3 separate regions of the Homo sapiens genome follow, and all the other regions are linked to region 3. Evidence: fine-mapped expression QTL. A gene starts in region 3. Each other region holds a variant in brackets. All regions are shown on one strand. Distances are between the middles of the regions. Region 1 has its middle 81 kb from the start of C5orf67. Region 2 has its middle 68 kb from the start of C5orf67. Region 3 holds the start of MAP3K1 (mitogen-activated protein kinase kinase kinase 1).

Region 1 (10,579 bases), 130 kb after region 3:
ATCTTAAGAGAAAGCAAAATGTACCTCCTAAATGAGTATCTATATATTCCATATATATGTATTTACACACACACTCACACACACACTCAATTTCCTTGGAACAGAAAATTATCAAGAGAATTTGAACTTTTAGTCAATTATCATTTCCCCAACATATGGATACCTTGTGATATATTCTTAAATAGAGGTGCTATTAGAATTTTTGGAGCTAAGTTATACTGAAAATATGACCAAACTTTAAAAAATACATAAGAATGAAGGAAATGAAACTGAATACTTACTAGGACTTCTGAAGCCTACTCTGAATTAAAATGAGGTAGAAAAAATAAACTATAGTTGCCAGGTGAGGACTCACATTGTCTCACTTGGAAATGGGGACATGAGCCCTTGGTACAATCATCTTTTTATCACTGGAAGAATTAAAGGACTTCCCACATCAGTTACTCTTTGATTGTTCCAAAACCCAAGTCCAAGTTCCTGTAATGCCTGGCAGTAACTTCTTCTGACCCAAAGTAAAGGTTAGTAGAACATAGCATTTCCAGGCTGTGATGTTAGAGGCACAAATATGACATGCTAATGTTACTTTTTAAACGTTACTCTAAGAAAAGATTTAATCTCTGCACTATTACTTGTGTTACTATCTACTGATGTAAAGAAAGCCATGACTTCTAGATTGGTGGATGGATTTTGGTGACAATCTTGAATTAGAATCTTGGCTTTACTACATTTTCATTTTGTGAACCTAGGCAAGCTAACTTCTCTGAGACATAGTTTCTTGCCTGTAAAATAGGTATAATAATAACCTCTAATGGGGTTTTGTGAGGATGGAGTGAGAAAATAGGTAAATCACCTGCTTAGTAGAGATCATTCCCCCATTGTCCTTTTCTAGGACTCACAGGTTTTTAAATTGCTAACATTAAGGATTCTCACACTTTACCATTGAAACTACTTTTTTAGGTTTCTTGGAAGTGTTTTTGTCTCTCCTGATCTTTAATATCCTTCTTCTATGTGTTTCCTTTTTCATCCCTATTCTTCCCTCCTTGATCTGATATTCACCCCAATACATATTTAAACCTCCCATCTTGGTTTTCTCTATCCAACTTTACTTTCTTCCTTTTTTCTTCCTGGCAACCAAATAACTTCTTTGATCCTGAGTACTTTATCACTCTCCAGGAACAATTCAGCTATGCATATTGCCTGTAAAAACATTATGGCATTACAAATAATTTTCAAGGAAAAAATTCTACCAATACATCCTCTTTCTGTCTCTGATCATACGCTTATATTTTAAAAATGCATTTTGTAAATAATATTTGTAAATAGTGTAGTGCAACGGAAAAAGTACAGAAAGAGGGAGATCAGTTCCTGTTCAGCTCTTGTGATCCTTGGTCGGTCCATTTATCTCTTAAAACCTCAATTTCTTCATCTGTTAAAAAAAAAAAAAAAGGCAGTTGGAGAGGTTATCCCTGTGTTCTCTTTCAGCTTTAAAAATGGTCTATGAATTGGTATCTCTATAAAAAGGCAATGTTCTTCCTATACTGGCTAACCCAGGAATGCAACTGATCACATATCATTATTTGCTTTTTTCACTGAGTTCCTTTGTGTGAGTGCAGAGAATAAGCAGAAGACAAGATTCTGTAGCACAGGTAGTAGGTAGGACATGCTGCCTGATGGGTCAGTACCCTCTTGGCCACCTTCTACCACTTGGGCCTGCTGATCTTTAGCCACACTGATGCTCTCGAATGGTTCTCTTGCTTGGTCCCCTGTAGGACAGGTCTCATAACCAAGTTTATGAAATGGCTGGACAAGATTAGAAGTTCAAGCTTTGGCCATGGAAAACAACAGATCTATTGGTCTGTGCCAGAAACAGATCACAAAAATCTCTCTGCTCTCATGAGCAGCAGCAGCAGCAGCAGCAGCAACATTTCACCAAGAGTGCAGGTCCAATCCGATGGGGATATCAGCTTCATGGGAGGCTGGGGGAGGACAGCAAGGAAGATCAGAAACAAACATGTTTAGAAAAATGTCCCCATTTTTCCACCTCAGGAATTGATTCTCAGAGTATGGTAAAATGCTTCCCTCCCCCTGAATGACAGTGAACCGAAAAGCCAGGACAGAGGTTTCTGTGTTAAAATGTTAATGTGAAGTCTCACTGTATTTTGAGTGCTTAAGGGAAAGCTAATGGGAACTTTCCAGGGAAGATGGTGGGTGTTGCTAACATGAAAATATGTATGAGAATTCCTAAATGGAGGCTTTATATGGTTCAGTTGGAGGATAATGAAATCCTAGCTTGTCGGGGATGGGTGGGTAGGGCAGAGGATGGGACTGGGTGAGAGTGGGGAGAAAGGGTAGAGAAGAAAGCCTGCTTTTGGACTCTGTGGGCTGGGGAGCTGCCTGTGTGAAGGGTCTAGAATGAAGGCTGATGGGGAAACAGAGCAAAACCGGGGCAGTGCCGGATGGAGAAACTTAAATGGCTGGAGAGCTAGACAGGAGGGAGGCCCCTGCCCAGAATGAGGATAGAAGCGTGGCACTGGACATGGAAAATACCAGGGGTTAGTTGAAAAAACAAAAAAAGAAATAATTCTTGAAGGACCATACTGGGAAGGACCTGTGGATTGAAAGGAAAGTGGCCTTTCAAAGTCCCGGTGAGTGATCATCAGCTTTGAACCTGTGCCAAGACAGTCAGGGTAATGGTTGCTTGGCTCTTTCTAACCTTTGTAGCTAAGGCCACGGCTGCCCAATTTGTCTAGGACTTGGGGGACAATCTTGTTTTTGCAAAGAAACTGGAACCCAAAGTTATAGTCCACAGTCATCATGGTGACCTGGGTTTTCAACTCCACTGCAGGGCCTGCTCCATCTTGTAACTGGCCTTTTGCCTTATTTCCTTTTGACTAAAACTCCATTTTGGGCCTTAGGAACTGCCCCTTTGTTTTACAGTTATATTTGATTGAGTACTGGCTACTGTGCTGGCACTCAACCTCACTATCTCATCTGTTCCTCATAATAACCCTATGAGTAAAGCAATTATTCCCAGTTGATAGATAAGAAAACTGAGGCTTACAGAGTTTTTGTTTTCTTGCTTGCCACAAATTATGGGTCAGAGCCAGGGTTTAATCCAGGCATTTTACCCCCAGAGCCCAGTGCTCTGGTCAGTGTCTTTCCCCCCTGCACCGGCTTCAACATTCAATCTCTGCCCTAATTCTTTGCAGCCCTGATTACACTGGGATGATCCTCCTGTATGTGCTGCTTTTAGTCCAGCCATTGAATACCTTCTACATTGTCTGCCTCCCTCATCTTTTGCTGATGATGCTCAGGGGTCTGCCTGCTCCCTGGGTCATGGTCATCTGACATGGACTGGTCCTGCTGCTTAGAGAGAACTCTGCTGGTAGTCCCTGAGCTCTCCTGCAGAGCTCCAACCATAGCAAGGTTCTCTCTGACTTAATCTGCAGTGAACTGGAGTTATGTGGGTGTACTCATGAGGACAGGCTGGAAGCAGTGTTCAGCCAGATAAGATGTGCACTCAGGGTGTGATGTTGGCTGGAGTGTAGGATCAGGCCTTCAGTGACCCCAAGTAGAAATGAGTCCTGTAGATTTTATTTCTAGATGAGCTGAGGAAGGACATTTTCCCCTTTAACGGTGAATTGGGGTCACTCCTTATGGGAATTTTTGGTATGCCTTGAAGGATTCTGCAGCAATTCATCTTGCACATGGCCTGCCCTTGGAGTGTGGGGCCTGGGGCTGTACACTGACATCCTGTTTTGGTTGGGCAGAGGTTCTTAGCCCTCGCCATTCATCACAATCACCTGAGTAGTTCCTAGGAACAGCTGAGCCCTGCGAGGCATCCTCAGAAGTGCAGCTTCAGATGGCCTGGAGTGATATCTAGACATCCATAGTTTTATAGAAATGTGCATAGAAAAGTGCAAAAATCAGGTGATTTTAATGCCCAGCCTGTGTTGCTAACCCCTCATGTGCTGGGTGGTTCTTGGGCAGGAACAGGAGCAAGGCAGGGTGACCTGATATTTTGCACTTTTTTATGAGATGCTTAGTTAGCTGTGGCCACAAAAGGAGACAGAGGAGAAGCTCAGCAAAACAAAGTTTATGCTCACAGGTCCTCGTGACAGGAGGCATGGTCGTGCCATGCAGGGGCACATGGAAAAACACCAGGGTGGTAGGAAGCAGAAGATAGGAACTGGGGGAAGATTTGGCCAGTGCCCCCAATAAATGGGGTTTTCATGAGAAAGGCAGGGCAGGGTAGACAGTTTAGGATTGGCTAGTTTGAATTATTTGGGGCAGCCTCTAAGATAGAGGGGTGGCCCCTAGTTGCCTGATACCTGGCCCTGGGTTAATTAAGGCAGAGGAATATTGCCTCCTTGGGTGCACAGGCAAGACTGGGTAGTTTTCTTATGAAAGGCTGGATTGGCTCATTTTCATATGAAAGGCTGAGCCCTTTGCCATCTCTAAGAATTGACTAGCCCCAAGAGAAACAGCCTCTTTCCAGCTAGAAAATAAAATAAAATTACACACACATGCGTGTGCACACACACACACAAAACCTGAGAAGAAAATAAATCGTTAATGTTGCTTTGCATTGTGAACCTTGAATATTGAGGAATGTAAATCTGATCAAAAAAAAGAAGGCTAGGCTCAGTGGCTCATGCCTATAATCCCAATACTTTGGGAGGCTAAGGCAGGAGGATTGCTTGAACCCAGAAGTTTGAGGCTGCAATGAGCTGTGATCCTGTCACTGCACCCCAGCCTGGATGACAGAGTGAGACCCTGGCTTAAAAAATAACAATAATAATAATACATAATAATTTTTTAAAAATTTAAAAATGAAAAAGAGCCAGGTAGATTCCTTAAAGTGTCCCAGAATGCTAGAGGAAGCTCACCATGTACTTGAAAGGTACCATGAGCCAGAGATTTAGAGAGGACACTGTAGCTGGGAGGCTGTTCTATGGGACTGGGAGTTGCTCAGCAGCAGCATGCATGAGGGAGCGTGCTTGGCTGGCAGGCTGCAAACTCTGAATTCTATGTGAATGTGGCCCCCAAGTTGCCCTGAAGCTTTGGACTGTTGTCTAATGAACTGCTCAAATGTGTTCAACTCTAGTAATCAGAGCTGCAAAGGCAGAAATGTGCTGGTGGGTGGGGGTGGGGGGGTGGGGAGAGAAATTTGGTAATTGGTTCCAGCCTGTGAAAGGCCAAGTAAAAGCGTGGATCATTATTTAAAGTGCAGTGGTCTTTGGATGATGGTTATGATGGTCCACATTTGATGCAAAAGAAAGCCAAATATATTTTAAACAGGATTCAAGAAATACAAAGTTAAGGATTTTCTTAGCAGAAAAGTA[G/A]AAAAGTGTGCATGCTGTTTACTTAGTTTTGCTCACATTTTTTTTTTTTTTAACTTTTTCAGTTCCTGTTTTTTAGCTTTTGTTTTTAAGCCTGTGGGCTCTCAGGGTCAAACTTAGGTTAATTGACGTGTTTTTTAAATCAAAGTTTTGAGATAAACCAAACTTTCATAGCTAGATAGTAAAGCCCTGATCACAAGGGTTTTAAAATCAAACAGGGGGTCTTTGCACACACGGAGCTCTGTGGCTTTGTGTCTGCATATGCATATGGCTACGTGTGAAGGCAGGAGTAAATGTTCCTTCAACTTGCTGAGCCTCCTCTGTAAATTGAGGGGTTTGGAACAGTGACCTGTAACTACAGAATATGGGCTAACAGTTGTTGGGCGCTTACTGTATGCCAGACACTAAATTCTTAACATGGATTATTTTATTTACTCCTCACCATGTTCCTAGATGTCCATACTATTATGATCACTGCCTCTGTTTAGAGATTAGGAACTGAGGTTTAGGGAGGTTAAGTAACTTTCTCAAGGTCACACAGCTAGTGAAGGCTGGAGCTGGGATTTTGATCCCAGACCCCATGATGATAATCACTCTGCTTACATGACCTCCCAAAATAACTTTGTCTCCACTTTGTTAAGATGAGTTCTCCAAGGCCAGCCCTCCACTGAGCCTATTTCCTCCTAGCCAAGTTGCGTTTTGTCATCTGTGCTGAGACATGAGTGGTTACACTGGGTCATGACTGTTAGGCCAACAGGTTAAGCTAATTCCAAATGTGGATAACTGAGTAAGAAGGACTTTAAGTTAGCTTTTCTTGATAACAGGAATGTAAGACTGTGAGCTGGAAGGAACACTACAGAATGAATCATTTTCATTAACAGCAACTTGCTGGTGCACCCATGTTCATAGCAGAGCTATTCACAATAGTCAAGAAGTAGAAGCCACACAAAGTGTATACGGATGGATGAATGAATAGACAAAATGTGGTATTTGCATGAGTAGAATACTATTCAGCCTTAAAAAGGAAGTTACTACATGGATGAACTTCAAGGACATTATGCTAAGTGAAACAAGCCAGTCACAGAAGGACAAATACTGTATGACTTCACTTCTATGAGATATCTAGAGTATGTGAAGTCATAAAAATAGAAGGTAGAAGGTGGCTGCCAAGGGCTGGGGAAGGGAGAAACAAGGAGTTGTTTAATGGATAGAAAATTTTAGTTTTGCAAGATGAAAAGGTTCTGGAGACTCATTGTACAACAGTGCAAATATACTTAACACTATTGAACTGAACAGTGAAAATGGCTAACATGATTAATTCTATGTATATTTCACCACAATTAAAACACAAACAAATAAAAGAATAAGTAACATTCTTGATCTGTGCACTGAAAATTGGTCTTAAGCCAAAATAACCTTACTGTCACATACCTTTAAAGAGATGCTTACAGTCTTTCTTTATGGGGGGAATTGTGAACATGAATTTAATGATTTGTCTTGAATGTTAATTTATTACTCTGAGTTTATTGTGCATCTATAGTGGTTAGAGGGCACAATAATTGTACCTACAGCATAGGGAATGTACAATGCATTTGGATCACTTAGCATAGTGAAAAATAAAATATTTGGAGAAATGACAAATTTTAAAAAGCAATTTTCCAGTTTTAAAATAGAAATACATAGTTTCTCCAAATTAATGCACTGGCAGATTGCTTTTTCACCTTACAGAATCTCTAAACACATCCACACGATTATATGAGGACCAGAACTGTCTTTCTGGATAACTGAGTACAGAACTATGCCAAGCCTTCCGTATAGACTAGTGAGCAGAACAAGTCTTCCTGGATGAACAGCCACTTCTGGGAAAACTAGGTGGAAATGCAGATTCAGCAACTCACAGCCCGGAACCTTTAGGTAAATTTTAACACAAGAGAATTGTCTCATGTACTGGCAGTAGCTCCTTCTGGAATGTATGCCCTGATGGACTTCATTCAGGGCAGGTTGCTGAAAATTTGTGTAGGATGTAAAAATCTGAATAACAGATTAGGAAGGAGCCCCAAGAAACAGTGTGGTTCATCAAGCTGCAAAGGCAGGATGTCTAAGTTTGGTTCCCCAAAAGCAAGCCCGACAGTAGATCTCACGTGCAGGTAGTTTATTTAGGAGTTGAACCCAAGAAGCAGGAATGAGGGGATGGAGAGAATGTGGCAGAAAGGAAAATATTAGGGTATGTTATCAAGGCTGATGCTGTGGACAACGGGAGCATGGTTACCCTGGCGTTCTAAGAAGTGCATGGAAAGTCTCCAGATTGTCCTTTGTTATGCTGGAGCCTGGGGCACTTCTTCACAGTTCTCACGCCTCATTGCTTGAGGATTTCCAAGCTGACTTGAAAGTGGCCTGCCTGGGCTCCCACACCTTCACAGGAGGTCCTGAGGCAGAAAGCAAGAAAATGACCTGAGATTTCTAGAACTCAATGCCAAAACCAGGGCTGAAATCAGAGGTGGGCTGAGGAGATGTGATGTGAGCACAAAGAGTTGACTGGGAAGTCACTTAATATGAGTCCTTGTAAGCCACTCATATTAAGTCCTTGTGGCATACATGGAGAAAGGCAGTGTGGTGTAGTGGTTAAGCCTGTGGGCCTGTATCAGACAGCCTAGGTTTGAATCCTGATTTCATCAACTTTATCAGGCACATGTTCTTGAAGAAGCCACTTTTCTTAGTCCATTTGAGCTGCTGTAACAAAATACCTTAGACTCAGTAATCTGTAAACAGAAATGTATTGCATACAGTTCTGGAGGCTGCAAAGTCCAAGATCAAGGAACTAGCAGATTCAGTGTCCGGTGAAGGCTGCTCTCTCTGCTTCAAAATGGTGCCTTCTTGCTGTGTCTTCACATGGCAGAAGGGGCAAGGGAGCTTCCTTGAGTCTCTTTTATAGGGGCACGAATCCCATTCATAGGGCAGAGCCTCATAACTTATCACTTTCCAAAATGCCCCACCGCTTAATACCATCACACTGGATATTAGATTCCAGTATAAGAATTTTGGGGGTACACAAACATTCAGATCATAGCAATGCTTAACTTCCCTATGCCTTGGTTTTCTCATCTGTGAGATGGTGCTATAAAAGCTTCCTGGCAATGTCACATAGATGGTCTAGATCATCCAGGTGGCACACTTAGCATTCTGGCAGTTATAATGATACAGCAGGTTGACTTTCCCAGGGCCTCAGAATTACTTAGAATGACTCAATCAGAAAACCTGCTGTGTAAGCTTTTTGTCAAAATCCTGAATAAGCCCAGACCAATATGTCAGTGCTGGAAAGGATTAATGGCCTTAATTGATGGCATGGAAATAAGACTTTTCATCCACTCATCTAGGATGGATTTGGCAAATTCTGTAGAAGATGAACGAGATGCCTTGTTTTTTAAACTAGATTTCCACTCTCACCTTTTTAAGGGGCCTGCTAGTTTTCCCTGTTGACAATATTCCTTTAAAACACCAAATCCCCATGATCCACGTGACATGAAGAATTGCCCTGAAGGTACAGCCACAGGCACCTTCAGCCTTACCCCTAGAATCATTCTTGCTCTGGAGGATGCCTATACCTTAAGGAGATGCCTCTGGTCCTTTCTACTAGGTTTTATGGTTTTAAAAAATTGTACAGTGGACATTTTCCTGCATTTTGGAGGGAAACAATCTGGAGAGGCTGTTCAGGAATGGGCAAGACTAATATCTCTATGGCCATAGACTCCTGACAGAAACATCGCTGATGTGGTCCCAGGAAGTCAGTGACTGATATGAAAATCCCAAATTGAATTTTAAGCCTGGAGTTTAGCCATTTTCCCTCTATTGGGAGTTTTCATAATGGAAAATAATACAAGTTATTCTACTAATTCGGAGCATTTTTGCATTATACAACTTCTCTTGATTATAATGGGTGACTGAGGAACGGGAACCCCACGGGGGAAGAGAAAATTAAGGCCCTGCAAAGCCTAGCAAGATACTGTTGCATGTTTCCTTGGTGAGCTGCTCTGAATTTTTGCTTATATCCTTCTCTCTTTGGTTTAAGATTGGGTGTTCAAATCAGCAGAATCACAAAATAAAAGCCAAAGGAGATGGAGAAGACTGATATTACTGAGTGTGTGGTTTGAAACACTTGGGTTTATTCTGTCAACCTTGACCAATGGGGTATGTATATTTTAGGTTATGATAATAACATATAACTATGAAACTCCTCTATTGTTAGTTATCATGTCTGAAACTTTCCAATCCTAACCCTAATCATCTTCCCCTTCCACTGAAACAACTATCTTAATATCCCAGTTTTTGATAAAACATAATATTTAAGAATCTACTATCACATTATAGCAGAACGAACGGTCCTGTTGGATGTTTTAGGGACTTAGTTCCAAATACTGCGAAAACTTCTATCTGTCCCCTACAATTGTTTGCTATTCAGTGATCCTGACATTGTTTATTGCTCAGGGTGGTTATGACCTGTGTTACCATCATGCTATGTTAAAGTTCAGTGGTGACCTGACCTGTATTCTAGTGTTCAGAGCCATCATTTTGCATTAAGTAGACACTCACTGACCTGCAGGTGTTTTTAGTTTCTGCCCACTCTTTGTCTAAAAAGCAAACCAGAGAAAGAGAAGACACTGAAGCAACAGAAGGGAAGCCACAACCACCCTGATGGTGGTGCCTTCGCGCTGTAAGGGTATTTATTTCTGCGTGATGATCCAGAGCGGTGGGGGGGAAGGCAGCGTGGAGCATAGTAGGTCTGAGCACCTACTATGAGCTCAGCACTATGGTAGGGGATGGATAAGAAAGTACAATAAAGTTCTCTGTTTTCCATGATCTTAGAATCTGGTTGGGGAAACAAACCACGAACTCTTGGGGGGCAGTTTGGTCCCGAAGCAGTGCTCCGTGCATTGGGTCAGAATGAGTGATGTGCACAGCTAATGCCTTGGGAATCCAAAGGCAAGGGAGGCTCTGTGTGTGCTGCTGGGGTCAAGCAGTGCTGGGAAGGATGGGTAGATGACAGCAAGGCACAGAAAACCAGAGAGCAAAGTCCCTAGGAGCGATTTTTAAAGAAGTGATGTGATCTGGAATTTTAACTACATGAGTTCATCTTGTTGAAGGTACACAGCAGGAGGCAAATCAAGTCTTTGCACATGGGGTTGTTTTGAAGAGAAAAATAATCACCCCTCTTGTTTTGCTTTATCTGGTACTGGCATTGT
Region 2 (10,579 bases), 140 kb after region 3:
CAGTGATTTCTTCAAACATTTTTTCTTTAGGTGGTGCTTTTTGTGTTTGTTAATTTTTGCAATTGTGAAGTAAATGATAAAATATTCACACGGAAAGATTTTAAAGGGTGAGAAATAAGATGTTGCCAGCACCCCAGAAGTCTCCCCTACTTCTCATCCTGAATCTGAATCACAACTTTCTCTCACCTGCTTTCCCTCCAAAGAAAATATTCTTCAGACTTCTGTGCTAATCATTTCTTTGCTTTTCTTCCTGGCTTTATTACTCATATATACATCTCTACATAAGATAGATTAGTATTGCCTCCTTTCCGACTTTATATGGGTGGAATGATTCTATGTTTTCTTTCACATCTTGCCTTTTTTAATTCAACATTGTGTTTGTAAGATTCATTTATGTTGTGGCACAAACCTCTGGTTTATTACTTTTCCTGCTGTATAGTTTTCTATTGTACAAATTCACTGCAATGTATTTATCCATTGTACTATGGGATGATTCTGATTTGCAGCCATCATGAACAACAATGCTGTGAGCATTCACATACATACATTCTGGGGCAGATATGTACCAGTTACTCCAGGACACATACCTAGGAGTGGAATTGCTGGTTGCAGGGTTTGCACAACTCAAACTGCTTTCTAAAACGGTTTTAGTGGCTCTTTTACTTCCTAAACATAAACTTGATACATAAGGCCAGGAAATAAAATAGATGACGGCGGAGTTGCTGTGTTTAGAGCAGAGGTGACATTCTCAGGGCTTGGTTTTCTTTGTACTGTGTTCTGTTGATGTTTTCTTGTGGTCCTTAGACATCTTGTTCTCCCACATTCTATATTCTCTGTGATGCTTTGGAGGACGATGGATTTCTCATTCTAAGGGCAAGAGGAGATCCTGGCCTTCAGACCCTCAAGGAGCAGCCCTACTCAGGATTATTTTAATTTGGAAACCCAAGATTCTACTTTTAAAAACAGACCCTTTCTAAGGAAATTCCTATTATGTAAAGAACTAGAATATATATATATTTTTTAATGCACAGGCCACTGCCTCTTGGACCTGTCTGTCCTTTTCATGATCTTGAATTAGCTTGACTTGGTTCTTGGTTGGAAGCAGAAAAATTGTATTCAACAGTTATGTAAGAGAATAGCTGGAAGCAATTGGATTAAAATATTCAAGCGGCTTAAGCCCAGAGAGGATGAATCAAAATATTGAGTACTGTTTGAGGTGCAAGGAGAATATTTGTACAGCTTCTGATGTGCTTGGACATTGATTGTCTTGTGGTCATGAAGCCATGTTGGTAGTTTAAAGTTCAGAGGGAATTCATGCTTTAGGAGTTATCCCTCCCAAAATGGCAAAACATCACAATGAAGACTTTTCCCAATGCTGTTCTTTGCCAAAAGCATAAGACTAAAGCAAGATTGATGCTGGAACAGTCTGGGCAGTAGACAGGCCAATGCATGTAATGCATATCATTAAAAATAGTTAGCACAAAGAAATGGTTGTTATTGTGCTTCGTCCAAGTTGGACTTAGTAGCTAATTAAGTACAAGCTCCTTCTTTTTTTTTCCATGGCCATATGCAGTTTTTGAATTCTTATAACACAAATTGTTTTAAAGAAGTTAAATACAGAATGCATTGAGTTTGGTAGAGAAAGTTTAAAGGTCTGCATTTTCCCACCAGAGCTATTTAATATCAGCTGCAGAGTGGGTGTGTGTGTGTGTGGAAGGGTTGTGACCTCCCTTATTTTTACAACCATTGCCATGATTTCATAATACTGGCAGCAGTCACCCAGAGTGCAGAAGTAGACTTTATTACAGTAATTATATGCCAGAATGTGGGTATTAAAACAGAAAAACTTTTCTACTGATAATAAATGTCAAGGGAAAAATGACTTTACGCAACAAATAGCCCTTCATCCATGTTTTTAATGTATTAATGGCCTCAATGAAGACTGAGATGTGTACATTGGTTAGAAGTTCAGACTCCATATAGCCTTTTTGCCTTACTTGTAGATAGTAAGTAGGGAAGTTGAAGGGTAGAGGCATGTCTTGGCAAGTTAGATTTATTTTTCTCCATGGCGTAAAGTCGGATATATATTCACTTGGGCAGATATAGCTATTGTTTTTTGCAGATGGGTAAGTCAGGACCATAACTGAATTAAGCTATTGTTTCTGGATTACCATATTGATTTTCTCTAATGTATTTTGATGGGTTTCTGAGAGCTGGGAGAAGTAATGTGGCATGGAAATTTATCTTGAAATGTAGTTTTCTGACTATTAAAAGGCTCAAATAAGGACAATAAAAGACCTGAATAAGTACGAAGAAGTGTAACTTTTTGAAAATAGCCATATTCTGAAAAATAAGCTTGTGGCTACTAAATTATACTTATCAAGCATTAATTGTGTGGTTCATTAATATATTGCTGAAATAACAAATAAGGTCTAAATGTAGAAAGTCTACACCAGGAAACATTTTTTGCACTCTGCAATTGAATTTGGTGACAGGTTGATTAATCCCAAGAAATTCTAAAATTACAGTCTTTTATCTTTGATTTCAATGGACTTTGAAGTGGGTAGTTAGACCTTTCTCTGAAGTACTCTATTAGTTTGAATATACAGAATAGATTCAGAAACTCAGTAGCAAAACTCAGAGCAGGATTTAGGTTTCCAGCCTCCATCATATAAGAGTCTAAACATCACACCTTTCTTAGATTTCTGGTCAGTTGCTAAAGCCATGAAGACTATTTGAAGGTGCCTGCAGACTTTTCCCTGAATAGCGTGTTTAATCCTGCACAGTTGGTACTTAACAAATACTTGAGGATGATGAAGATTTTCATTTTGGGCCCTGCTTTACTAGCCCTCTGCTTAGTTATATGGAAGAACGTGGGTTAGAAACCTCCAGATGTGTGTTGATTATTGATTATGAACTGAGCTGTATCTCAGGGGAGCCCTGGGCTGGGAGGCACTGATAGCTGTGACTCATAGTAGCCTTAGGGGATGGCCATGGGCATGCAGTTTCTTTGCTCAAAGTCCAGATCAGTCTCTAGAACATGACACTAATTCCTCTTCTGTGTCTTCTCTGTTCTCTGCAGTGGGTTTGTCTTGAACAATGAGCCATTCACAGGCGCCCAGGGAACTACCCTGGACCGGGGAGATGACTGCAGGCCCTGCAGGCAGTTGGCCACTCTCCAGTCTAGGTATTCTTGGGAATGTGGAATTATTTGAATCAAAGGGAAATAAATCTTTTGCAAATGTTAATACAAATGACTGTGGGAAGGACTTGGTGCTAAACGAGGAGCTGTGAACTCTTGGTGCCTACTGAGTTAGTTTTTGGCAGGGAATAATACTAGGTTGCTATGGGAATGATGAAGACAAAATAATAGTCATATTTTAATGGTTGCTCTTACTGTGTCATCTTCAACTGCTCTAGGCTGAAAAAACTTGCTATTTGAATGGTTTTATTACTCTTACTTCATGTTTTGTTTCTTTTTCTCCTGTATTTGAGCTTGCAAACATGTGTCCCTAAATAAGTTCATGAATCTAGCTTACCACGTTTTCTTTGAGCCTAAAGGAATCAGCGCATTTGATGTTGATCCTGTTGATTATATGCCTTCTGTGTCATAAGTTTAAATTAGAAAAGGGGCACCCTGGGGATCTGAAATTCCATGTGCTTTTCTGATTGGGTGGAGAAAGAAGGAGAGAGAAACTGTGCAGTGTGGGACAAAGGTCAGCTGACCTGGGCCAAGCCTCCCCTTTGGCACATCTAGCTGTGTCACTGGGCAGAGGTTAGTACACCTCTCTGACCTGGGTCTCTGCATTAGTAAAATGGGGCTAATTATATCACTACTCTGGCGTTGTGAGCTCCTCAGATGATATACGTAAAATCTTAGTACAATGTCCACAAACACCTGGCAATTGTGAAGCCAATTCCTTATTGTATACATAGCAAATATCACAGCTCAATCCTTTTCCTTTGAGCAAAGAGGCAGCCTCAGAATCCCTCTCAGCACAATGCTCCAGGTAGCCACTACCAACCCATCACTGTTGACATGTGATATTTACTGAAGCACAATCCTTGGGGCATGATAGACATTCAATAGATGATAGTTCTTTATTCTTACTATTCCTTTTTTTTGAGGTGAAGTTTTGCCCTTGTTGCCCAGGCTGGAGTGCAGTGGCACGATCTCAGCTCACTGCAACCTCTGCCTCCCAGGTTCAAGCAATTCTCCTGCCTTAGCCTCCCAAGTATCTGGGATTACAGGTGCCCGCCACCATGCTTGGCTAAATTTGTTTTCATATTTTTAGTAGAGACAGGCTTTCACCATGTTGGCCAGGCTTGTCTCGAACTCCTGACCTCAAGTGATCCGCCCACCTTGGCCTCCCAAAGCGCTAAGATTACAGGCGTGAGCCACCGCGCCCGGCCTATTCCTACTATTCTTGCTATTATTGTTGTAACAGGAGACTGTAGATATGACAGCAGGAGATGCCGGTGGCTATTTTTTGCTTTTCCCCTTATAATTCAGCTTGCCTCTAGAATCAGCAGAATTAGGCATAGCTGACCACCTACCTGACTCGGGAATACTGCTCTCTAATCTTTGTCTGCCTCTCTGGTACCTTCCTCTGCCTTCTTTGCTGCTTTCTCCTCATCTCAATGACCTGCAAATAATTGTGTACTTGGTCCTTCCTTGTCTTTTTTTATCCACCCTCACTAGGTGATCTCATCTGGTCTCAGGGGTCTGTATAGCCTGCAGAACCATAAGCCAATTATCCATATGCTAATGACACAAACATTTATGTCTCTAGGCTAGAGACAAATCTCCATTGTGTTTCTAACTGCATTCTTGAGATATATCTCTAATAAAATGTTTCATTACTTGTATCAATCAGTTCTGTTAATTGGATATCTAACAGGCATCTCCGGCCCAGCATGTTTAGTGTTGAAGTCCTGATTCATAACCCACGAGCACTCCTCACCCCTCTGGCAACCCGAATCTATTCCAGCCTTCCTCATTCTAGCAAAAGGCAATTCTGCCCAAGAGTTGCTCCATATTACTCTGTTCTCAGACTGCTATAAAGAAATACCTGAGACTGGTTAATTTATGAAGAAAAGAGGTTTAATTGGCTTATGGTTCTGCAGGCTATACAGAAAGCATAGTGACTGCTGCTTCTGGGGAGGCCTCAGGAAACGTCCTATCATGGTGGAAGGCAAGGGGAAGCCGGCACATCTTCCATGGCTGGAACCAGAGCAAGAAGGAGAGAGGGTGGGAAGTGCTACACACTTTTTTTTTTTTGAGACAGTTTCGCTCTTGTTGCCCAGGCTGGAGTGCAATGGCGCCATCTCGACTCACCTCAACCTCCGCCTCCCAGGTTCAAGCAATTCTCCTACTTCAGCCTCCCAAGTAGGTGAGATTACAGGCACCCATCACCATGCCTGGCTAATTTTGTATTTTTAGTAGAGATGGGGTTTCTCCATGTTGGTCAGGCTAGTCTCGAATTCCCAGCTTCAGGTGATCTGCCCGCCTCGGCCTCCCAAAGTGCTGGGATTACAAGCGTAAGCCACCGCGCCCGGCCGGTGCTCCACACTTTTAAACAACCAGATGTCATGATAACTCTACCACTATACAGTACCAAAGGGGGGATGGTACTAAACCATTCATGAGAACTCTGCTCCCATGATCCAATCACCTCACACCCAGCCCTACTTCCAACACTGGGGATTACAATTCAACGAGAGATGTGGGTGGGATCCAAACCATATCATTGCTCCAACCTAAAACCTTGAAAGTCATTCTTGGTTCTCTTTTCCTCATACTTCCAATCCATCAATAAATCCTGTCAGCTCTACCTCCAAGAATCTTACTACTTCTCACCACCTCCACTGCTACCACCACTGGTCCAAGCCACCATTATCCCTGGAGTCTTGTAGTAGCCAATAATAGATAGCTACAGTTGTTTCTCAATACACAGGCAAATTGATTCTTTTAAATGGAAATCAGATCATGTCACTCCTGGGTTCCACAGTTTTTAATGCCTTTCCACCTCACTTTGAGAAAAAGCTGAAGCCCCGGCAATGTCCTACAAAGCCCCACACAACTGGGCCTCAAGACAACATCTCCTTCCACTGTCTCCTCGCTCACTCTGCTCTGGTCACCCTGGCCTTCTCGCTGTTCCAAGAATATGCCACTCCTACTTCAGGCCTTTACTTTTGTTCCCCCTCTGCTTGGAAACGGCTTCCTCCAGATGTACACAACGCTTGCTTCCTCATTTCTTTCAAGTCTGTTTATCAGTGAGTCCATCTTAT[A/G]TATGACATTAGCAACCACCCTTCCTTACTGCTGCAGTCTGGTACCCACTCACCTACTTTCTCACTTTCTTTTTCCCCATGGCACATATCAATATCTGACATATTATGGCTATACTTGTTTATTGCTTGTCTGTTTCTTGCAGTAGATATGAGATCCAAGAGTGCAGAAACTTTGTTCCCTGCTGCGTCTCCATCACCTAGAAAGTACTGGACACATGGTAGGCATTCACATTTTGTCAGACTATTACGTGAATGAAATGAATGGCTCAACATAATCACTGCTAAGAACAAGAGCTCTTGCAAAGCCTCTGTAACCACAAGTAAAAATATTTGTGTTTACTAAAGTCTTTCAGTACCTTAATTTGTTTGCTTTGGTAAATAGAGTCAGAATTTAACATGGAAAAACTCTGAACTCTCCTAGTTGATTTCCTTGAGGCTGACCAGCTTGGAGTGGTTATAAAACACAGACAGGTATTTAAAATTGCCTGGATGTAGCCAGATGCAGTGGCTCATGCCTGTAATCCCAGCTCTTTGGGAGGCTGAGGCAGGCAGATCACTTGAGGTAAGGAGTTCTAGACCAGCCTGGCCAACATGGTGAAACCCTGTCTTTACTAAAAATACAAAAATTAGCTGGGCGTAGTGGTGCATGCCTGTAATCCCAGCTACTCAGGAGGCTGAGGCAGGAGAATCACTGGAACCCAGGAGGCAGAGGTTGCAGTAAGCTGAGGTTGTGCACTCCAGCCTGAGCGACAGAGGGAGACTCAGTGCCTGAATTTCTGTAAGGGATACTAATCTGGTTGGAAAGGAGATGTGGGTCTCTAAGCTGAATTAAGGTGGTTATTTGTATAAGAACATGAGAAAAACATCAACTGCTCATTTCAAAGAACGAAAGAGTGATAAAGGCTGCCGATAGGATTTGGACAGGGAAGGAAGGTACCGAAGCTGTCTTCCTCAGAAGCATAAACACATGGGAGTTAGTCCTACTAAGTAACAGTGTGGACTCGAAGTAGTCCCTGAAATTTCTTTGAACCTCAGTTTCCTCACCAGTGAACTGAGGGGCTTAGATATATTATTTATAAGGTCAATTCCAACCCTATTTTCTGGTGGTGAGATCAGGTCTCAGATTTATATTCTCAGACATAACTTTCATTAAATTGGAAATTTGAGATCCAGTTTCTTTTTCTGCAAAATGAAAAGTTTGACTAAAATGAACTCTAAGGTTTTTATTATTATTTTTTAACAGGTCTAATATTCTTTGTTTTCATTGTGTTTTTGGATTTTTTTTCTCTGCCCAATTGGCTCTGGTAAAATTTAACCTCTTCATTATGATTATTGGTTGCTTCTTTTGTTCGTTTCTTTGAAGTTGTGGTCACACACACACACACACACACACAAAATGTGAAGATATGTCACATACATTTGTAGATGCAGTGTGTGCTATCTTGCTGTTGGTGACCACTAACTTTGCCTTGAGACAGGGTGTGGAGCAGAGATACATCCTTGAGGTTTGTTTTATTCTCTAAACTTGACAGTGAGAGGACAGGAAATGGTCCATTGAGAAACTGGTGACCAAAAAATGCTGAAATTCTTCTTTAACCTCAGTTCCAGTCAATTCACATTGGAAACCGCAGTGCTTTTAAATTGCGCATTCCTAATTCTCTGATTTCTCACCCCTGTGGCTTGTTTTAGGGTCTCTAGGTGTATATTCAGTCAGCTGAACCACTCGAAGGGCCTGGTCACACCTGTGTCTTACCTTTGTGCCTCCATTTCTACAAGTACAAAGACATGGAGGAAACAGAAATTTTGCTACCTCCTTTCAGTGTTAAGTTTGAGATATCCTGATAAAAACCTTCAAAAAAGGGACTGAATGTTATTATTATTTTTTAAAGTAAAGACAAGAGGTTTATGTCCTACAGTTCTGGAGTCTGGGAAGTCCAAGGTTGAGGGTCCTGCATCTCTGAATGTGAATTTTTAACAAATGTGTTGGGGCTGGAGGGTTGGGGTGAGTTGGAATGGGGACAGAGCTCTTGAAAGATGCTTATTAAATCTGCAGTCCTTTCTAACAGACTTTTACAGGTAGGAACGCTTTCTTTGAGAAAGATGCACAGAGCTTGTCCTCTTCCCTTGAAAGCCATGGGCAATGAATGATAAAGTAGTTAGTCATCACAGAGCACTGGTGACTTAACTGCTCAAATCAATAAATATTCCCATTTCCATTGACTCATTTAATGGGAAAAGAAGGTCACATGTCAAGAAAGAGGGAGGGGATGGAAGAAAGGAGAGAATGAGTGAGACAGGAATTTTGAAATGTATTAGAACGTGTTTTTTTCTAACATTTTAGTATGAAGATTCCCAAATTACAGGAAAGTTGAAGGAATTAAACAGGGTATACCCATTTACTCACAACTTGGATCCTGCAATTAATATTTTGCTATAATTGCTTTATTACCTCTATTGATCCTCTCAAGAGTAGCAGTCTGTGAGTTTTGATGAAGGCTTACTTGTGTGACCCAGTCCTAACCGGATATAAAATATAACCTTCATCTCAGAAAATTCTTTCTTGCCCCTTCCCAGGTAATCCCTGCTCCTACCTCACAGCCAGAGGCAACCACTATTCTAATTTTTAAAACTGTAGATTAGTTTTGCCTATTTTTGAATTCCATGTTAATAATACCATACAGTATGAGCTCTTTTGTATGTGAAGCTTCTTTCATTTACCATAATATTTTTGAGATACAGTCAGGTTGCTGTGTGTAGCCATTTATTTTTTAAACCACAATAATCTCTATTCATTTTTAGAGAGTCTCAGGTTAAGAGTTTCTTCTAAAAGCAACAGGAAAAATAAGCTGTTGTTTTTTTTTTTTTTTTAAGATAGGGGAGAGAGAGTTGAAAGGAACCTGAGTGAAAGGTACTTTGGCCTCTTAATTTTCATGATAAAGAAGTTGAGGCCCCGTCATTGCTCTGGGGCACGCAGACTGAGCTGAAACTGGAACCCAGGTCTCCTGATTCACGGCTTGAAAGGGTTAGGAAGGCAGCTGAGTAGGGTGGTTGTTTGAGCTGAAGCCATGTGAGAATAGAGAGTTTCGACAGAGCTTTGCTTTAGAGGATGTGAAACTACAGTAACCTCATGTGACAAAAAATCCTCCGAGGCCTTGGTATGGAGCCAGAGGAGGAAGTTTGACATGGCCTCTGGTTACCAGCTCCACCTCTGAACCCACTGGCCCAGGATGACTTATGGTGAGCTCTCTGATTTGCAATAAAACTAGACATGGGACAGAGAAAGCTTTTCTGCACCATGCACAAGGCAGGACAATGCTAAAGGAGGGGGGGGAAAAAAAAACAAGAAAGACACCTTCAGCCACATGGCCTTCCCATAGCAGGGGACCCAGAGCTGAAAATAAAACACCCAGGGAGGAAGGGATGCTGTGGTTACAGACAGAGCCTTTGTCTCCCAAGTGCATGTTCCAATTCAGCCCAGGATGACAATGACCTGGAGGTTCCTGCCTGCCAGCTGTTGGCTGGCCTTTGTGAAAGTCCCCGAGCTCCAGGCCAATGCTTAGCGGGCAGGTATCCATATCGTGAAGCCAATTGGCACTGCTGGTACCTTTGTTGATGATGTGAGCACAGCCACTGGGAACCAAGGCTGCTGGTGCACTCTTGCTACCAGCTGGCAGGTGCAAACCCATGGGCAGGTGCCCTGGGGAGAGACGGTTCATGCTGCCATGGTAACCGATAAAAAAAAGGAGGTTTCTTCAAGGTCAGTTTGCCCTTTTTTCTGCTAGAGGATATTGTGAGGAAGAAATGAATTTGTGGCAGCCCTGACTTGTGTGTAAATGTGTCCTTCATCTGTTTTGAATTGACACTTCTAATTGGATCTAATATTAGTGTCACCCACTGGGCAAATCTGGGTATTGGTGGGTCTCCTGGGCTATGTCATTGTGGACAAAGATCAAGTCACCAGAGAAGTCCCAGAAGAGACGTTCCAGTGTAAACCAAGCAGGATTGAACAAAGAATTCCAAAAGTGATTTTGAAAAGGCTGACAGTCAGGTTGGACAGGTTCTTCGGGCTATTCCAGGATGTGAAATTAATGCGGACTGTCTGAGGCGTGTCACCCTAGATGTCCTTTAGCCAAACTGTCCTAGGTGCAAGGAAGAAGGGACCCTTGTCAGCTTGCTTGGTGCCTCACGAGTTTGTCACAATGCATTCATTGTAAAGAAGCAAGCTTTCCTTATCATCATTGTCCTTCTCTCTGTAAACCTTCTGCTCATGCCTTTACCTTGGGCAAAT
Region 3 (10,579 bases):
GCATAACCAACATGCAATACAAAATATACACACTCAAATAAGATACAAGCCCTTTCCCCACAAAGTTTTATACGAACAGATTCAAATGAATTTCAACCCAATTGTTAAGAAAAAAAAATTCACTATATTTCATAAGGTTAGGGAATCAACATTTTACTATAAATGAAATCTTTACGTATGACATTTGGGATAAACCAACAGCATTCTGACTCGTAAAAATAATTTCTTTAAAAAAGATTATCCTTACAAGCCCATTATTTTCTTATACTGTGCAATTATAATCTACACCTTAAGCAAAGGGGAAAAAACCTCGGTTACAAAACGCAAATACTAAGCATGGATTACTTAGTCCCTAAATTCTATCTGCCTCCACCTTAGTCCTCTTATTTTGTGTCAAGAGACAACATTAAACAATTTCAGTACATTATTTTTACAGTGGATGCTCTTCTACTATATTCACAGCTCATTAAGAGTACTAGAATGCTGACGTTTGCTAAATTATTTATTGTATCCAAAAAGTTAGGTCTCAATAGATACAATTTCTTAAATTTGGGGTTAAAAATTTTTATCTGGAATTCATTTAAAGTAGAAGTTGCCTTCAAAGAATTATTCCAGTTAAGTTTTAATACAATCTGCACAGAAATGGGAAAACTATAGAGGTACATAACTCTTGTAAGAATAAATTACATGTACAAGTGCACACAAAACTGTATCAGTCACAAATCTCCTTTGGTCTCAGTAGTGCCATGGTACAGTGCGAAGCATATTTTTTAGTTCTTGGGGAGAGGAAGGGGACTTCCAAATACTAAATGGATCGTGATTTTAAGCAAATAATCAAATGCACAAAAAATGCCAGATCACTTTAGATAATGAATCCAAACCAAGGACTCCTACTGTCAAATTCGTCTCACAAAATGACACGCTTTCTTCTCATAATAAAGGTCAGGGAATTCTACAGGGCCACGAGGGACTATCACAAAAACATTTCCAGCAACTCAAAATACCCATCAAGACTTTGTACTTTGCATACGTTAATCAGGTTTTTAAAAAACAAACAAACAAGGATGTAGCTGTCACACTTAAAAGAATTTCCTTTAACATAAAAATTTCCAGTAGCCAAAAATGGGCGAGGCCAATAAACCGCTGGTCTAAATTACCTTACACATACTGTACTTCATATGCACCAGAAGACGCATCTGAGCCGAAGCCCACCGCACTGCGGCCCCTGGAATTCAGCGGGCGGCCCGCGCCAGGGCACCGAGCAGGAAGCACTGCACCCGCGCCGCAGTCCCCGGGCCAAGCCGGAGGGGCTGCGGGGAGCAGTCACCACTGCTTTGAAACTGAATGGCTGACACATCCGGTCCTGGCTCTTACACCACTCCGCCAAATGCAAACTTCAAAGGCCAAATTCAAACTCCAAACAGAAGTCACTCAAGTGACTTAGCAGTGCAGTTCGCATTCCCAGGAACACTCAAAGCCCCTTGGGGGCTGCAATTAGACAAACCGCACTTCCTAAAAGACTGCAAGCCTCCGCGAGTGTGCAGCCTCCCGCCGCACGGCTTTGACAGGCGTTACCGAGCCGTCCTCCTGGAGCCCTGCGGCCGGCGCTGGGGGCGCGCCGCCTGCGTCCGGGCCCAGCCCGCGGTATCTGCCTAGGGACTCGAGTCCCGGGCGGGCCGAGGGGCTCTGCCTGTCACGGCCGCTGGGACCTGCTACTTTCTCTTCGGTCCTCTCAGTCTCCCACCCGACCTCGGGCTTCTCACCCACCCCGCCCCTCTTCCGACCACCGCCCGCCTCAGGCTCGGGCCTCGCCCCCCAGTGCCTTTGCCCCGGGGACACCCGTCCGGGGGCGCCGCCGCAGGGCCGTGCCCCGCCCCCGGGCTCCTCGGAGAGCCCCGATTCCAGGAGTCCCACAAAGCCAGCCGTGGCCCCCTACACCTTTTCGCAACGGTTCCCCGCAGAGAGGCTCGCACGCCTGTCACATGTCTGCAAACAATAACAAACTCTTCCGCACGTCCCCGTCCGGTCCCCCAGGCTGGGTCCGGGGCGCCGCCCGACTCCGAAGGGGTCGGGGGGTGCTCAGGGGCGTAGGTCCCGGCGAGCGGCGCGTAGCCTCGCTGCGCTGAACCCCGGGACGCCGTGCATGGTGCCCGGGGTTCATTCATTGCCCTCTGCCCGCTCTCCAAGTCCCCGCCGCGACCCCGGCCGTGCTGCTCACCCGGCGGGGGCCGCTGCAGGAGACGGCTCGGCGGCGGGCGCCCGCTTCTCCCCGGGCTCGGCCGCTGCGGGACTCGAGGCGCCGCTGTCCGGCGCCGCCACCGACTCGGTAAGGTGGGCGCCGCCGCGGCTCGCGGCTCCGTGGGGCGGCGGCACCGCCACAGGCTGGAAGCCGGTCCCACTCCCCGCTGCGTCCGCGGGCTCCGGCGACGGGGAAGTCGAGGAGGCCGGCGGTGAGGCGGCAAGGAAGAGCGGCTGCTCAGGCAGCTGGTCCAGCTCCACACTCCGCACTTTGCGCAGCTGCCGCCGCCGCCAGTCCGCCCGCTCGCGGCCCCCGCTGCCCGCCTCCCGCAGCAGTCCCGCGGCAGCCGCGGGCGCGCTGCTCGCCTTGAGGGCTCCTCCGCCGCCGCCTGCCTCAGGGCTCGTAGCCCTGGCGCCCGGGAATCCCGACGACGAGGCGCGATTCCCCGCCGCCGCCGCCATTTTCTCTCGCGGGCTACATTCGCTCGGCCCCTGCGAGGGAGGGAGGGGGCGGGGAGAGCGCAGGGGGCGGGCACTGCGCCGCCAGCGTAAGGCCTCCTGCGCCAACTGCGTGAGCGCGGCCCGCCGGGCGCCTGGCCTGGACTGACCGACGGGCGGGCGCACTGGGTCCGGCCTGCGGCAGAGGTGTGGGTGGAGGGCGGCCCGGCGGCCGCAGGTGGGAGGGAGTGGGCTGTGCTCTCCGCCGGGCGAGAGGGCGGGCGGGCGAGGTGGACTGGGAGGCGGAGGGGGCGGGGGCGGAGGCGGAGGCGTGGGCTCCCGGGACTCTGCGCGCTGCACGCGCCGCGCCGCCAGGTAGTCCCGGCCGCACCGGCGACAGGAGGAGCCTTGGCGGCAGCGCTGCGCCGCTTCCTCTCGGCAATCTCGGCCCGGCACCGCGGAGCTCGCGGGAGGGGAGTTGCACCTTCCGAAAGAAAGAATTAGTTCCAACTTGGGTTTCTGGTGCTTGAAGGGGACGCAGGCGAGAGGGTTTACAGTCTGTCATTCCCACTGCCCTTTGCAGTGGGCGTCGGGGGACCCGGGCGTGGACCAGCCTCCCACCGACGCGCAGGTGGCGCCCGGGACCGTCGCCTGCTGCAAAGCGAAAGCAAGTCAACGTTCAGCAGACAGGCTGCCGCGGACCAGAAAAATAAAGTTTTGTTTGTGTTTTCTTTTGAAAAGAAAACATTCCTTCTCTATTGTCCCACCCCTGTCCCTGTGCTACAGATAACAAAACTTCAAAGTTTTCTGTAATACCTTACATCCTGAAGCTGCTGATTTGGGACAACTACCCCCTACCCTCACCAAGTCCCCACAGCCTCTGAGAAACCGTTGGGGCGAGGAAGGGAGGCGGGTGTCCCCGTCGATCTTTAGTTTTTCCTTGGCTGTCTTTGGGAAAGGCAGTCCCGTACAGAACCACATATAGCGCGTTTGGGGAGGGGACCAGCGCTGTGCCAGGAAGTGCTCGGTAATGTCACCCTCGGCCAGGTCCCGGCCCTCCCCGAATCCGATGCTTCTCGCCGCACGTCCTTCTTCCCTGCAGGGTCGGGCCACCGGCCGGGTTCCCTCTGTCCCCACTCCTGCAGGGCCTGGCTGCCCATCGCTGCGTTGTGAGTCCTCCTAGTCCCTGGACTCTACGTGAGAAGGTGCTTTGGGATGGAAAAAGCAACATTTACACGTTAATGATTTTTGACCTTTTGTCAACTGAGGAGAACTTCTGTGTTGCGTTTATTTCTTCCTTCCTTTCCTTTCCTCCAGCTGGTTTGTTTAGGATGGGGAATCTCCCAAAACCCAGGAGGAACGTCTATAGATTTACTTTGTGAAACATGATTAAGGAGGGGGGAGGTTGGGGTGGGGGGGTGCGGATTCTCACGGAGATAGTCTTGTCAGTCTTCACATATTTAGACAAAAGCCTGAACTATTTACAGAATAATTCCATTGACTTCTGGAGACTAGGTAAAATGAAAGCCCCTTTCCCAGATACAATGTTAACTGCGTAACCAGGTTAGATCAGAGGGGTTTTAAAAAGTCCAGATTTCATATTAGCTCAATGATTTGAAAACTGCTGTAACATCTCCCATAAGATAGTTTTAGATCGTTACACCCAACGGTACAAATTTTGAAAGTTCAGATAAATCTGTTAAAAATTAAGTCTACATTTAGGCTATAATTATATGCTATTTTAATGGCAGTCAAATGTATCATTCAAACCAAACAGTGGTTATTTCTCAGGTCTTCCTGGGTTGCCACACCCACCAAATCCTAAACTGAAACGGATAAACTTTCCTTGTTCCTATTTTGATCTAAAGACTTTTACATTTGCACGCACATATTCAGGTACCTGTAAGTGAGAAAAGTAAGTGGAAGACTTTAGCCAGAGTAGCAGAGTAAAAAGGAGATTCCAGCAAAACTGATTTTTGACTGTTTGTACAGTGGTTGAAACTGGGGATCAAAGGGAGAGGGCTACCCAGCGCAGCACTATGAACTAGCTACAATTCTCTCACTTCCTCCATCCACCACGTATTACCATGGAGAAACCTAAGTGTTGGTATTTTCCCACAGTTTTTGTTGCTTTGAGTCATTTTTTTCTTTGTTTACGTAAATATTCAGGTTGTCATTATGCATCTGCATATGGACACACTGATTTCTTAAAGAGAGAATCAAAGGACATGCTTAACTGAAAAGGGTGTTCTCCCTCTGCCATATGTTAATAGAAGTTTCTGAGTCTAATGCGTGATTAAGACTCTAGCTGGTTTTGGTGCTCTTCAGTCCTGCTATGTTACTGCAGAGAGGTGGATGTCAAATATCAAGTACTGTAGGCTCTGAATTCTCTTAATATGATTTATTTAATAACATTCAGGAGACTTGTATTTCTTCCAAGGTTGTTTCTAGACTGAAAGCTCCAATTCCTGTTTCCAAGCTCTTCATTTCCATCCTCACTGGGACGTAAACCTTGCAATGATTTCACGCATGCAATTTCATGGCAATTTCATGACCATTTCAATAACCTTAATACCAGTGCATTACAGATCACTGCCTCCACATAGTGCTTCTGGAAACTGCCTACATCACACTTCAGTTCCTGCAGCATATTCACGTTGAGGATCCACTTTGACACTGGGCATTTCCTCACTGTACATAAATATCACAAATATTAGAATGAGCAGACATAATATACATTGGGAGAAATATTTCAGCCTGTACATCATTCATCATATATTTAGTAAGCACCTACTGTGCATATGCAGGAATTTTTCTTCTCTGAGGATATTGTTTGTTGTTTTTCATTTCTACAAAAATGAATAAACAAAATATTCCAATCTACAGATATTTTTATTAGTGGGTATTTATCAGGCTGACTGGTAGAATTCCAGATCCATCAGTATGTGAATGTATTCACATATTCATGGCTGTTTGTGAGATCTATACCTCAGATAAACATAAAAGAATAATATAACCTTGAGAATAGGGTAAAAGCTGGTGTTCTTTCAAGCTTACAAATATTTATTATGGAATACTTGCAGGAGTGCTGGGGCTAGAATTTGGTTTCTGCATGTTCTTTCCAGACAACATACTTCCCAGGTGTTTTCAGATGTTCTAAGTCAGAAAATCCTGTCATCAGTGGGATAATTGGTTCCCTACAAGGGCACTGTAAATGACATTATAGTAGAAGGTCTCTTAACCAGCCTCCATTTAGCTGACTCATCCAGTAACAGATACCAGCCATTACTGTGTGGTGTACAACATGCAGAGGGATGATACAGCACAATAAATGCTCAGGCCAGCGGCTGGTGTGCACCTGCATACTTCTGTTCCCACTAGGTGAGTTATGGGTCCCATGAGAATCCATTGTGCTTGTTCCCAAACTTGATTCCACCTATTACAATGTTCCTTGTGAAATTTAATTAAATATTACACAATTGATTATTAAATTTAAAAACATGAGTATGTGTGTGCGAAAAGAAAGTTGTTCCAGTGAAAATGAAGTGAAATGCTTTGAGAGAAAAGTGATTGAAACTGGGGATCAAAGTGAGGCAGTACCCAGTGCAACACTTATCAACTAGTTAACAATTCTCTAACTTCTTCCCAGCCACCGCATACCACCACGGGGAAACCTAAGTGCCAGTCTTTCCAATAGTTTTTGATGCTTCTAGTCATTTTTATTTTAATCACTTATGTGAATATTCAGGTTGTCATTATGCATTTGCATATGGACACACTGATTTTTTAAGAGAAAAATGATCAGAGGACATGCTTAATTGAAAGGGTGTTCTTCCTTTACCATATGTTAATAGGAAGTATTTGAGGCGAGGCACTGAAAAAATCTGTCAAATTAGTTGTGGGTATGACCATTATGAAAGATTGGGAAGAATTTACTTTGCAGGTATCTATCAGTAGTCACTTTAAAAAAACTAAAACTGAAAATTGTAGATGATGTGAAAGATACATGGAACTCTAAACGGTGAACCCACATTTTAAAGACTAAAGACTTACAGCCAAATATTGACCAAAAAAACCCCAAACCAACCAAAACAAAACACTGTTGTTTATATGTTTTAAGCTAAAGTAAAATACTTAAGAGATACGTATGATTCCCTCTTATTAATAAACCTTCTAAACATTTTGCATGTATTTGCATGTTCTTAAAATCAGAAATTAATTTTTGTAATAAATAATGAAAAGTACTTGGGATTTTATATTTAAGAACACAACTACAACTTATTAAATTTAATTTGCCTCAGAGTAAGCAAAATTCTTCTCACTTTACAATCTTGCACTGATTCTCTGAATTCTTTGAATGGCCATCGTAGTTGCTGTTTTTTGATGCATGCTGAGATACTCTTTTTCCATTTGACCTTTGTGGCTTAGTGAGGGCTATCATTTTTGCAAACAATATTTGAAGGGTTCATACATTTTCCCAAGATCCTCCTGTAATACTCAATTGCTTTTTTTAGACTAGTGTCCTTGTCAGTTTTTTCTTCCTTTTACCAACTTCCTGGTCCAACTCTGCTGAATCCTGCATTCACAAGGCTTTGCATGTGACCTGAGCAGTTCAGGACCACTTTCATTGGCTCTGTTCACTTCTGCATCTTTTGCAACATTTGCACCTTCACTTTGCAATTGATTTCCATTGTTTTATGGCCAAAGCTGCTATAAAGAGGTATACAAAGTTGGCATGGGGTTGGGCACAGTGGCTCACGCCTGTAATCCCAGCACTTTGGAAAGCCGAGACAGTAGGGTTACTTGAGGCCTGGAGTTTGAGGCCAGCCTGGGTGACATAGTGAGACCCTCATCTCTACAAAAATTAAAAAAAAAATTAGCTGGGCATGGTGGCACACACCTGTAGTCTCAGGTACTCAGGAAGCTGAGATGGGACGGTGGATTATGCCCCGGAGTTCCAGACTGCAAGGTGCATAATCACACCACTGCACTCCAGCCTGGGCCACAGAGCAACACCCTGTCTCTAAAAATAAATAAATAAATAAAAATTTTCAAAAATTATCATGCACTAGAAGAGTGCTGTCTAACAAAATATAGTGCAAGCCACATATATAATATTAAATTTTCTAGTAGATACATTTAAAACCAGGTGAAATTAATTTCAATAATGCATTTTATTTTACATAACGTATCCAAAAAATTATTTCCACGAGTAATCAATCAATGTATAACGTATTACGAATGAGATAGTTTCTCTTTTCTGGCGCTTTGAAATCTGGTGTGTGTTTTACACTGACCATTTCTAATATCTTAATTCAGACTAGCCACATTTTGAGTGCTCAAAGGTCACAGGTAGCTGACGTATTGGACAGTGCAGACCTAGAACTATAGTACCTAACACCAATGAGTTTTATGGATTGTTAAATGCTTGATTAGGTCAGGATTAATATATAAGAAAAATAATCCACATGTGTATGTTCAGGAAATAAGAAATGCAATGGATATAAATTATAGTCATGTGCTGCATAATGAGGGACCACATATATGATGGTGGTCCCAGAAGATTATAATGCCATGTTTTTACTGTACATTTTCTATGTTTAGATATATTTGGATACCCAAATACTTACCATTGTGTTACACTGCCTACAGTATTCAGCACAGTCACATGCTATATAGGTTTGTAGCCTAGGAGCAGTAAGCTATACCATATAGCTTATGTGTGTAGTAGGCTATACTATCCAGATTTGTGTACATACACTCTATGATGTTCACACAATGACAAAATCACCTAATGATGCATTTCTTGGAATGTATCAAATGTATTCCAGTCATTAAGTGGTGCATGACTGTAGTAACATATAACTAAGAAAATTAGTCTTTCCACCTCTCCTAGCTACCTTTTCAAATACATTTTAGCCACTATTGTTGGAGTTACCTTTCTCAACTACATTTCTGATTCTGTCCTCTCTCCTCAAACCCTTTAATGGTTCCACATTGCATAGAGTATGGAATCTACATTCTTTGATTCATTCAACAAATATCAAGTGCATTACCTCCTATGTGCTAGACACTGTACATACCCTAGAGATCAAAGTAGATATGACCTTTTACCCTCATGGAACTCTCAGTCTATCATCTCCCTTACTTTCCACCATTGACAGTTCAGTTCTCACCATAGTACATCCTGTCCTGAGGCCTGGGCTCCAGCCACAAATACCAGTTGCCCCTAGTTAGGAATATATCGTGCTCTCTTTCCTCTTCTCCTGAAAACACTTCCTTAAATCCACTTCACTCCTAAAACCCTCACTACACTACCCCTGGGCCAATCCCTTTCCTAACGTTTTCAGGGTTGGGGTGAGAATACAGATAGAGGCCCCTTACAACATTTTTAATTATTTAAAAGTTAAAATGTAAGCCAACAGTAAGTAAAATATGTTCTAGGTTCCCACTTTGATAAGTATACTTTTATAAAGACAAAATTGAATATTGTATGTAAAGTTATGGCTTTCATATGACTGATATGACAAAATATCAAAGACAGTTGTATTTAATTGCAGCCCATTAATGGGCTGACAATGTTTGGATGAGGAATAAAGACACGTAATTTGCAATTTTTTTATGAAATTAATTTTCTAGCTTTAATTTCAACAAAATTACTAATTATGTTGTTATATTAAGATATTTCACATAATTTGTGTTCAGTCACTTGAAACAATCCAATGATCTATCATTATTAAAAGGTAAAAATCAATTCAAAATACAAATTTGACAAACATCAAAATTTTAAATAAAAATGATTTAAATAAAGCTGAACTTCTAAAACTTTTGAAAATTTGATTATCAAATATTTTATTAAAATAAAACTATTTGAACTTCTAGCATTCAAGAGCCACATAGTTGCTAATGTATGGACAACATACTTTAAATGTTTTGTCAAATCTATATAAATACAAATCTAAGTCACACATAATGCTTAATACTGCAAAATATTCCTTAGTGTTCGTGTGCAAATGTTGTTAATATTGCCCATATATTGTGCCCATATATTTGACAAGTTAGCGGATTTCTCTCTTCTCTTACTGAACACTTCTACCTGTGAGGTCCTCCCTGTGTTCAAAGTGGTGTTGTTTCCAACATCAGTGGCAGCATCAACATCCACAAAACTTTTTGACATTTGAAGGCCCTGGGGCAAGGCATGTGAAGCTGCGCTTCCCTGGGGCTCACTAGTGTTGATCGCCAGAGCAGATGTTTGCCCAGCCACCACTGTGCACTAGATCCCAGTGATCAGGGCAGCTGTGTGTTCTTGAGTCTATTTCTATTTCCAAATTTGTGACACATCATGTACTCTAAAACACAGGGCCAGGGGTAGTCTCCTGCCCAGGTCCGAGGGAGGTACTGCTAAGCACCTGCTAAGGGGCAGGCCCTTTTCTGGGAGGCATAAGAGGTGCTGGGAGCAGAGAAAACAAGACAATGCCCTTTTCCTCTGGATATTTACAAAGCCTGCCTTGCATTGGAGCCACTTGTGTCTGTGTGCACATTTTCCAATTCCTATGAGACCCTGGAGCAGAGACCATTTCGTTTTCATCATCTCACCTCCACAGGGTCCCTACCTCGGTGCCTTGCATGCAGTAGATGCTCAGTGAACAGGAGTTGATTTAGATGGTTACGAAACACCAACTGTCTAAGAGTTCTTAGGATTTGACCTTTAATCACAACACTCCCTCCCTAACAGGGAGTTCCCCTTCCTTGAAATAAAACTACCTCATCTGCGAATTCAATTGTGCATTCATTTTAGAAAAAGATAAGAATTTATCTCTATTTATATTCTGAGTCTCTTACTGGGGGCAATTGGCGGGAATAGGGGATCAGGGAAACTGGGAATCTAAAAGGCAGAAAAATA

The links. PIP is the estimated chance that this variant, and not a neighbour inherited with it, causes the effect.
Region 1: its variant is fine-mapped to the expression of MAP3K1 in whole blood (TOPMed, PIP above 0.99).
Region 2: its variant is fine-mapped to the expression of MAP3K1 in whole blood (TOPMed, PIP above 0.99).

What each region holds. Positions count from the first base shown.
Region 1 is chr5:56,681,484-56,692,062 of GRCh38, reverse strand. No RefSeq gene overlaps it. Among named protein-coding and RNA genes, the nearest start is that of C5orf67, 81 kb to the right of the region's middle. RefSeq lists an enhancer at 5,306-5,455. The variant G/A (reference allele first, on the strand shown) is at 5,346.
Region 2 is chr5:56,669,032-56,679,610 of GRCh38, reverse strand. No RefSeq gene overlaps it. Among named protein-coding and RNA genes, the nearest start is that of C5orf67, 68 kb to the right of the region's middle. RefSeq lists an enhancer at 9,116-9,165 and a silencer at 9,115-9,409. The variant A/G (reference allele first, on the strand shown) is at 6,292.
Region 3 is chr5:56,807,695-56,818,273 of GRCh38, reverse strand. It overlaps MAP3K1 (mitogen-activated protein kinase kinase kinase 1), which reads right to left and starts at 2,725. Exons shown (of 20, transcript NM_005921.2): 1 at 2,219-2,725. The coding sequence starts at 2,700. RefSeq lists silencers at 1,628-1,867, 2,048-2,167, 2,238-3,007 and enhancers at 1,093-1,916, 3,368-3,497.